3 separate regions of the Homo sapiens genome follow, and all the other regions are linked to region 1. The links come from fine-mapping of genetic effects on gene expression. A gene starts in region 1. Each other region holds a variant in brackets. All regions are shown on one strand. Distances are from middle to middle. Region 1 holds the start of TENM3 (teneurin transmembrane protein 3). Region 2 overlaps TENM3 (teneurin transmembrane protein 3). Region 3 overlaps TENM3 (teneurin transmembrane protein 3).

Region 1 (2,769 bases):
CAGGCTAAAGCTGAGGCATCTTAAAATTTCGGAATGGGAAGGAAAAATAACATTAGCTACCCTGGAGGCTGTGGAAATAAATGCATCTGAATGCAAAGGACAGTGACTTGCAGGCTGCCTGAGATCCAATAAAAGCCTCATCAGAAGTAGCTGTCAATCACTCTAACATGTATGGCTGGTTCCAATAATTCTACCAGTCAAGATAATAAAATTTCAGAACACTAAATCAGCTCACAGCAAACCAGTTAAAAATATTTTGTGATCGCCGTGACCACCATGGTGGTCTAATACCCTGGGTTATATGTTTTAATAGAAAACACAAATGAGGCCGGGCGCGGTGGCTCACGCCTGTAATCCCAGCACTTTGGGAGGCCGAGGCGGGCGGATCACGAGGTCAGGAGATCGAGACCATCCCGGCTAAAATGGTGAAACCCCGTCTCTACTAAAAATACAAAAAATTAGCCGGGCGTGGTGGCGGGCGCCTGTAGTCCCAGCTACTCGGGAGGCTGAGGCAGGAGAATGGCGTGAACCCGGGAGGCGGAGCTTGCAGTGAGCCGAGGTCACGCCACTGCACTCCAGCCTGGGCGACAGAGCGAGATTCCGTCTCAAAAAAAAAAAAAAAAAAAAAAAAAGAAAACACAAATGATTCCATTCTTGGAAGAGTCTATCAGTTAGCACTTTGAGAAGACAGTCAGCCCTGAGTGCCCTGCCTCTCTTTCATTTCCTTTCCTAAGTACTGGAACCTCAGTCACAAAAGAAAACCAATATTTAAGTCAACAGACATACATTTAAAATTATTTCGCTGATGTGACTATGAATTTTACTTATAAAACAAGGACGTGCTGAATAGTTCACAGTATTTTTGGTGTGTTCATTTCAAGCATCTTGAACTGCTCTTTTCCTCAGCTTCCGTGTCCCAACACTGCCCAGATTTGCCCTCTCCATCTTCAACTACTTTTTTCCAGTCTCCTTTTTAGACTTGTCTGCCCTCCCCAGTTTCCAATACCTCGATACTCTCTTCTCATCTTCTCCTCCTTTTCTTCTAGGCTGTCTCATCCGTGCCCTCAATTCCCACCTCTCTACAGATGACTCAGCAACTTACCTTTAGTTTATCCTTAGTTCAGACTTCTCCTCCAAGCTCCAGACCCATCTAAAAGCCTTCATGGCCAGGTGCGATGGCTCATGCCTGTAATCACAGCACTTTGAGAGGCCGAGGTGGGCGGATCACTTGAGGTCAGGAAATCATGACCAGCCTGGCCAACATGGTGAAACCCCGCCTCTACTAAAAATACAAAAATTATCTGGGCGTGGTGGTGCATGCCTGTAATCCCAGCTACTCAGGAGGCTGAGGCAGGGGAATTGCTTGAACCCGGGAGGTGGAAGTCTCAATGCGCCAAGATCACCCAACTGCACTCCAGCCTGAGCGACAAGAGCGAAACTCTGTCTCAAATAAATAAATAAATAAAAGCCTATGTGACATTTACCCTTAAGACATTCTAAACACATCTCCAATACATCTAAAGTTGAATTCATTGTAGCCTCTCTACCACATAGTCGCCCTGGAATGCTTCTAATCTCAGTGAATGACATCACCGCCCAATTATGCAAGTCAGAAACCTAGTGATTATCTTGCTTACCTCTCTCTTAGCCTCCGCTTCTAATACATTATCAACTCTTGTCAATTTTATTTCCATCTCTGATAAGCACTACCCACATACAGGCTACCATCATCTCTCATCTGAACCACCACGGTAGGAAGATCTAGGGTACAGTTCAGAGAAAGCAATCAGGCAGGAAAACCAGTAAGTTTTATTGTTTGAGACAGGGCCTCAGTCTGTCACCCAGGCTGGAGTGCACTGGCGCAATCTCAGCTCAATGCAACCTCGACTTCCCAGGCTCAGGTGATTCTCCCACCTCAGTCTCCCAGGTAGCTGGAACCACAGGCAAGTGCCACCACATCGGGTTAATTTTTGTATTTTTTGTAGAGACGGGTTTTCACCATGTTGCCCAGGCTGGTCTCAAACTCCTGGGCTCAAGCAATTCACCCACCTCAGCCTCCCAAAGGGCTGGGGTTATAAGCATGAGCCACCGTGCTGGGCCACCAAGAAGTTTTAAGAAGGCAAATTGACTGGATTAAGAAAATGTGGCACATATACACCATGGAATACTATGCAGTCATAAAAAAGGATGAGTTCATGTCCTTTGTAGGGATGTGGATGAAGCTGGAAACCATCATTCTCAGCAAACTATTGCAAGGAAAAAAAAACAAACACCGCATGTTCTCACTCATAGGTGGGAACTGAACAATGAGAACACTTGGACACAGGAAGGGGAACATTACACACCGGGGCCTGTCATGGGGTGGGGGAAGTGGGGAGGGATAGCATTAGGAGATATACCTAATGTAAATGACGAGTTATTGGGTGCAGCACACCAACATGGCACATGTATATATATGTAACAAACCTGCACCTTGTGCACATGTATATATATGTAACAAACCTGCACCTTGTGCACATGTACCCTAGAACTTAAAGTAAAATAAAAAAAAAAAAAGAGAGAGGAAAAAAAAAAAGAAGGCAAATTGGTGGAAAAGGCATGTGGCTGACAGTGGAGAAAACAGATGAGAGCAAAACTGAAAAGGGTCCACTGGCTTCAGGAATAAAGAGGTTATTTGTGACCACGGAGAGTCATTTCAGTGGAGAAGCGTTTTTAAAAGAACGGTCAAGCCTTGTGCATTTTACCTGTCTGGAAAAAGAAAGGGAAAAG
Region 2 (2,769 bases), 310 kb before region 1:
TCAGCTGGGCTGGTGACAGTGCAGCAGCTGGAGGCTGGGGGAGAGAGCACAGATGAGAATCTGTGGGATGCAGAAAGGGAGACTGTGTGGTCTGAACTTCAACTCCAAAATGTTGTACCCTGTGGCTTCTATTTAAGCATCACTGGCTAGAGACTATATGTAGATTCAATCAACAGAGCAAGGGCCAAATTCATCAATAAAAAAGACCATTAGCACATGGATTGATAGGATCTTGCTTAGGGTTCCGTAGAAATGAGGGCTCATCTGTTAGCTCAAATAAGGCCCCTGTCCTTTTTTAAAATGAAACAAGTATTTGAAAATGTTAAGAGCTGAGCCCTGGTTTATTTGAACAAAATGTGAAAAATAAGCACAATTGTAGAAATTCAAGTACATCACAGTTTACTTACAGACAATTACGATTCTAATGAAGCTCAGAGTACTTAGTTCACACACACGAGTGATCTGAGTTGGACAGGAACAATAAATAGGGTCCCAGTTAACAAATGCACTAACCATTAATATCCTTTTGAAAGCCGCAGTTTGCTCTGACCCTATGAACAGGATTGGTTTATAAACAGGTAATAATTAGATACAATGTTGAATAGAAAAAGTCATTTAATTTTGATTTTACATGAGATTTTATAATTTTGTTTTAAAGTTCTCCGAAAAAAGCTCCACAAAAAAACAAATACAGAACCTAGGACAATCTTGTAGAAGAAGAAAATGTCTGGTAACCATATTTAGCAACTGGTTTTCAGTACACATTAGATGTATGATTTTAAAAACTGGCTGCAGGAATGAATGAACTCTTGATTAGATGAATACTGCCTCTAGGGTAACCTAATGCACATCCCTCTTGCCTTCCCTTGCCTGTCTTCTAGGGAATCCACAATGTGTATGCACATTTTACCTAGTTCAGCCTGAGTCAGGCTATTGAGATGTTTTTGTATGCTTTTCTCTGCCTATTCTTTATATAGTAACATGGGGTTGATATGCCAGCACTTCAGTCTACGTAGGAGTGGGTCATCGTCATTTCAGTGTTTGCTTTATAATGCAACGTGGGTGCCCTCTTAAGATTTCCCAAATGAATTCAACAAAGTGCTGGCTACAGGGGAGTGGGAAGGGGAAGACACTTGTAAATTGGTCACTTTAAGCTTCACTATGTAAGTAAAACTTATAAGAGATAAGCTACCATTCTCTAAATATAAAGTTTTAAATAATTCTTTAGAAAAGAAAAATTTTATTTTTTAAATAGGACAATTCCTCTTTATGAATTCTCATGACCAAATGATTTCACTAATTACTTTGTTGTATTCAATTTTGGGATAGTTCGCATAGTTGAGTTTGTAATGCAATAAACTATGCCTGAATGGTCTGTTTACTCCACTGCAAGTTACAAGCAAAATGCTTTCTCCTGAAAGGACTTGTCTCTGAAATGCACAAAGTGGCAAAAAGCCAAGGGAAGCTAGCTGGTGCTTAAGCAACCAAGAATGAGCAGTGCCTGTGTGCATTGCAATCTCAGCCAACCGAAGTAAATGTTATTGGAGTTTTTGTGCTGTAAAATTGCTGCTTTCATGCCCACTGCATCTGACAA[C/T]AGGAATCCTTGGTCTACTAGGAAGGTGGGAGGTTGTTGTGCCTTCTAGCCAGATTCCTACATTCCTAAGAAAAGGGCTGGGAAGTGGGGTAAAACTTCTATTGTTCCTAATGGGCTAGGGACAATGAGACTCAAGTTGGTGGCATATTTGGTCAGAGAAAGAGACTAAACAACAAAAAAAGTACTAATATTACTTCCTGCATTAAGCATTAGGACCTGGGAAGTTATTCTTTTAGAGAAACTCTTCAGTGTTTGTAGAATAAAAAAAGTAATTCCAGAGGCCTCAGGACCTGGGAAGTTATTCTTTTAGAGAAACTCTTAAGTGTTCGTAGAAAAAAAAAAAGTAATTCCAGAGAGTAGTGGATTAATGACTTAAGTTTTTAATTTTCAGGAAATTTAAAAAAGCATATTTTACAAATCATAAAATCAAGATCAATAAATACATTATTGCATTTTGAAGGGCAACAATTTAAAACCCATATAAATGCATTTAAGTTAATATGTGCACTTGGTTTTCTTGATGTACTGAGTCTTTCTTGACATGGTATTTATTTGTAAGGCTGTTTAGTTAATAGCACATTCATTCAGTGCTCACTTACTGAGCACCTACTTGAACCAGGCCAAAATTTCATCACCAATGCTGTAGTTTTAAATGTACTTTAGGTCCCAAATCAATGTTTAAGCCCCAAACCATACAAATAATCTTTTTGTTTAAATATATTGAAAAAAAATTTTAAAGCATCCACTGCTACTTCTAGGCAACTATTTTTTTTCACAATTATACTAACATAATGTCTACCATATAAGCATAATATTTTAAGTAAGACTTACATAGTATTACAGTTCATGGAGGAGCAAGATTCAAACTATATTTCTTGATTTTAAAAAACCCAAACCTCTATGATAGTTGTCACTGGTGGCAACACACAGTTAAATTTATGCCTGATATTAAAAAAAAATGTACTGAACAATACAGAATGATTTGGACTCGCTTGCCTCCTTCAGTCATAGACTAATTCTATTAGAATGGTTTTTATGTTAATTATGTCCTTACTTTCCTAAATATACATTTTCAGCATGCACTCACATGGCCATTAATGCGAGCTAAGTAAGGAACCACGTTCACTGATTTCTTTTTTTGGAAGACAAGGAATATTACTACATCGTATGCTTGA
Region 3 (2,769 bases), 340 kb before region 1:
ACACTGAAAAGAATACTGAATATGGGAGACATGAGGGCCAACATCGAAGTAAGATCACGTATATGACAATGCCCCGTGAATGGCAAGTACTATAAATGTAAGGTCCTATAATTGTTTGGGAAATTAATAATCTGTATTTTCTAAGGCTTTTTTGTGCCTCTAAGAGAGAGGGTCTTGCTGTGTTGCCCAGGCTGGAGTACAGTACTGTGATCATAGCTCACTGCAACCTCGAACTCTTGGGCTCAAGGAATCCTCCCACCTCACCATCCTGAGTAGCGGGTACTACAGGCATGCAGCACCATCCTCAGCTAATTTGTTAAAATGCTTTGTAGAGGTGGGGGTCTTGCTATATTGCCCCACATGGTCCCACATTTGTGGTCTCAAGTGATCCTCCCACCTTGGCCTCCCAAAGCACTGGGATTACAGGCGTGAGCCACTGTGCCCAGCCGGTTGTGCCTTTTAAAATAGTAGTAAACATGATATATTGAGATTGGAAGCCTGCATCTTTCTTCAAGATGCTCACTGCCACTAGGAACCTTCCTCTCAACATAAAGGTTCAAAAAGAAGCAGTAACTAAGATAGTCTTTCATGGATCTTATGAGCTTTCATTTCATGAGTCTACACATAGTTTGGTGCCAGTTTGTTAAAATTGTCCATAGAAGAGATGAATAAGCACTGGATATATCATGAAGAGAATAGAGATGTGACGTACTGGTCTGCTCAAGCTTCCGTAACAAAATGCCATAGACTGGGTGGCTTAAATAATAGACATGATTTTCTCACAGTTCTAGAGACCAGAAGTCACAGATCAAGGTCTGGCAGGGTCGGTTGGTTTCTGGTGACAGTTCTCTTCCTGGCTTGCAGATGGCTGTTTTCTTGCTGAGGCGAGGCAGACAGCAGGGGAGCAATGCAGGAGAGCAAAGCCCTCTGGTGTCTCTTCTTATAAGGATGCTAATGCGGCAGGATCAGGGCTACACCCTGATGACCTCGTTTAACCTTAATTACTTCCTTAGAGGCCCTAGCTCCAATAGTCACATAGGGGATTACAGCGTCAACATTTGAATTTTGGGGGACACAAACATTTAGCCCATAACATCTGGTTTCCTGTCCCAAATGGGACAGTTTAAGCTCCCTGTCCCAAACTTAGTAACTATATCATCAATTTCCTATTGTAAATACTCCAATTCCTCACCTGTAAAATGGGGTAATAATCAATCTTAAAAGGAAATGTTGTGAGAATTAAAGGAGATAATGTATATTAAAGTATTTTTATAAACTGTGAAGTGTTATTTTAGTGGAAGGAGTTAATTTCCAGGCTTTTCTTAATTATTCAAACAAAGTAATAAATGTTTTTGCCGTATTTCTTTTAGGAAAAAAAGATGTTTACATGTTAGTATATCCATAAGATAATTTCTTTCTATGGGGAGGTCTTTACAAGCATTCTGTTTTCATTTCTAAATTTATAAAGGCAAATATACAGCTGGGCACGGTGGCTCACGCCTGTAATCCCTGCACTTTGGGAGGCCGAGGTGGGTGGATTGCCTGAGGTCAGGAGATCGAGAC[C/G]GGCCTGAACAGCATGAAGAAACCCTGTCTCTACTAAAAATACAAAAAAATTAGCCAGGCATGGTGGCAGGCGCCTGTAATCCCAGGTGCTTGGGAGGCTGAGGCAGGAGAGTCACTTGAACCAGGGAAGTGGAGGTTGCAGTGAGCCGAGATGGCACCACTGCACTCCAGCCTGGGCGACAGAATAATACTCCGTCTCAAAAAAAGAAAAAAAGGCAAAGAAACACCTAATTATGTTTCCAAAATATCTATTAATATCATTTATTTAAAGTATTTGCTTAAGACAAATCGCTGGCATAAAAGATGGAAAAATGTACATTATTACAGAAATAATTCCCTGTGTATGCAGAGTGTATTGACTAAAATTTGCTTCAACTCTGTGTACTGAACTCATACTTTTAAATACTGATTTTGCAGTCTCTGCATTTAAAGCAACACACTAGAAAATCATGCTCCCACCAAAAACATGTAAAAATGTAAAGATGAAGAAAACAACTTTATGTTTTATGGCATTTACTTCAAAAATCTGATTAAGATAGATGTCTTTAGCTCATAATTCTTCAATGTCATGTTGTCATAGTTCCCATCAGCAAGATGTTTTAAAGGCTTTCGATTAATATTGCATGCCAGAACTGAAATTACATCCTTTGTCGTTTAGCTCTTAATGGTGCAAGTGATATCTATCAAGTACTGTTTTATGAAGTGTGTGTGATTTTTATTGCAGGCTGTTTTCACAAATCTTTTTCAGGTTTCAGAAAGGCGGCTTAGGGTTTAAAACAAATAAGCCCTTCTGTTGAAAATCTTGATGATTCTTAAAACTGCAGTAAAACTTATATTACTATTTATCAATAAAAAATCATCTATTTGGAATCTGTTGCATTCACATTTGCACACTGTCTTGAATATATTTGCTTTAACCCATATTTTAGTAAAACACAGTATTATAATTTATGCAAAATAAGTGCCAAAGACACATAGCTCACAAAGCTTTCATTAGCAAGCATGTACATTATCTGCCTAGTAAGGAAAATATATCTGTAGAAAACACATGCTAACAATTAAATGATAACTGGGTTTGTATTGCCAAAATGTATATTTTATTTTTAAAATATAATTACTAATTTACTTTTAAGAGGAATCTAGTGTTCTGACATTAATTTTAAAAACTTCAAAAATTAAACACTTCAAATACAAGTCATTTTCATA

Evidence for each region. PIP is the estimated chance that this variant, and not a neighbour inherited with it, causes the effect.
Region 2: its variant is the best candidate, but not a certain one, in a credible set for the expression of TENM3 in thyroid (GTEx, PIP 0.81).
Region 3: its variant is the best candidate, but not a certain one, in a credible set for the expression of TENM3 in thyroid (GTEx, PIP 0.57).

The regions. Positions count from the first base shown.
Region 1 is chr4:182,241,810-182,244,578 of GRCh38, reverse strand. TENM3 (teneurin transmembrane protein 3) reads right to left here and starts at 1,177. Exons shown (of 28, transcript NM_001080477.4): 1 at 1,103-1,177.
Region 2 is chr4:182,555,002-182,557,770 of GRCh38, reverse strand. All of the region lies in intron 3 of TENM3 (teneurin transmembrane protein 3), which reads right to left. Among named protein-coding and RNA genes, the nearest start is that of TENM3, 310 kb to the right of the region's middle. The variant C/T (reference allele first, on the strand shown) is at 1,595.
Region 3 is chr4:182,583,651-182,586,419 of GRCh38, reverse strand. The region is part of intron 3 of TENM3 (teneurin transmembrane protein 3); the gene reads right to left. Among named protein-coding and RNA genes, the nearest start is that of DCTD, 330 kb to the left of the region's middle. RefSeq lists an enhancer at 653-1,209. The variant C/G (reference allele first, on the strand shown) is at 1,564.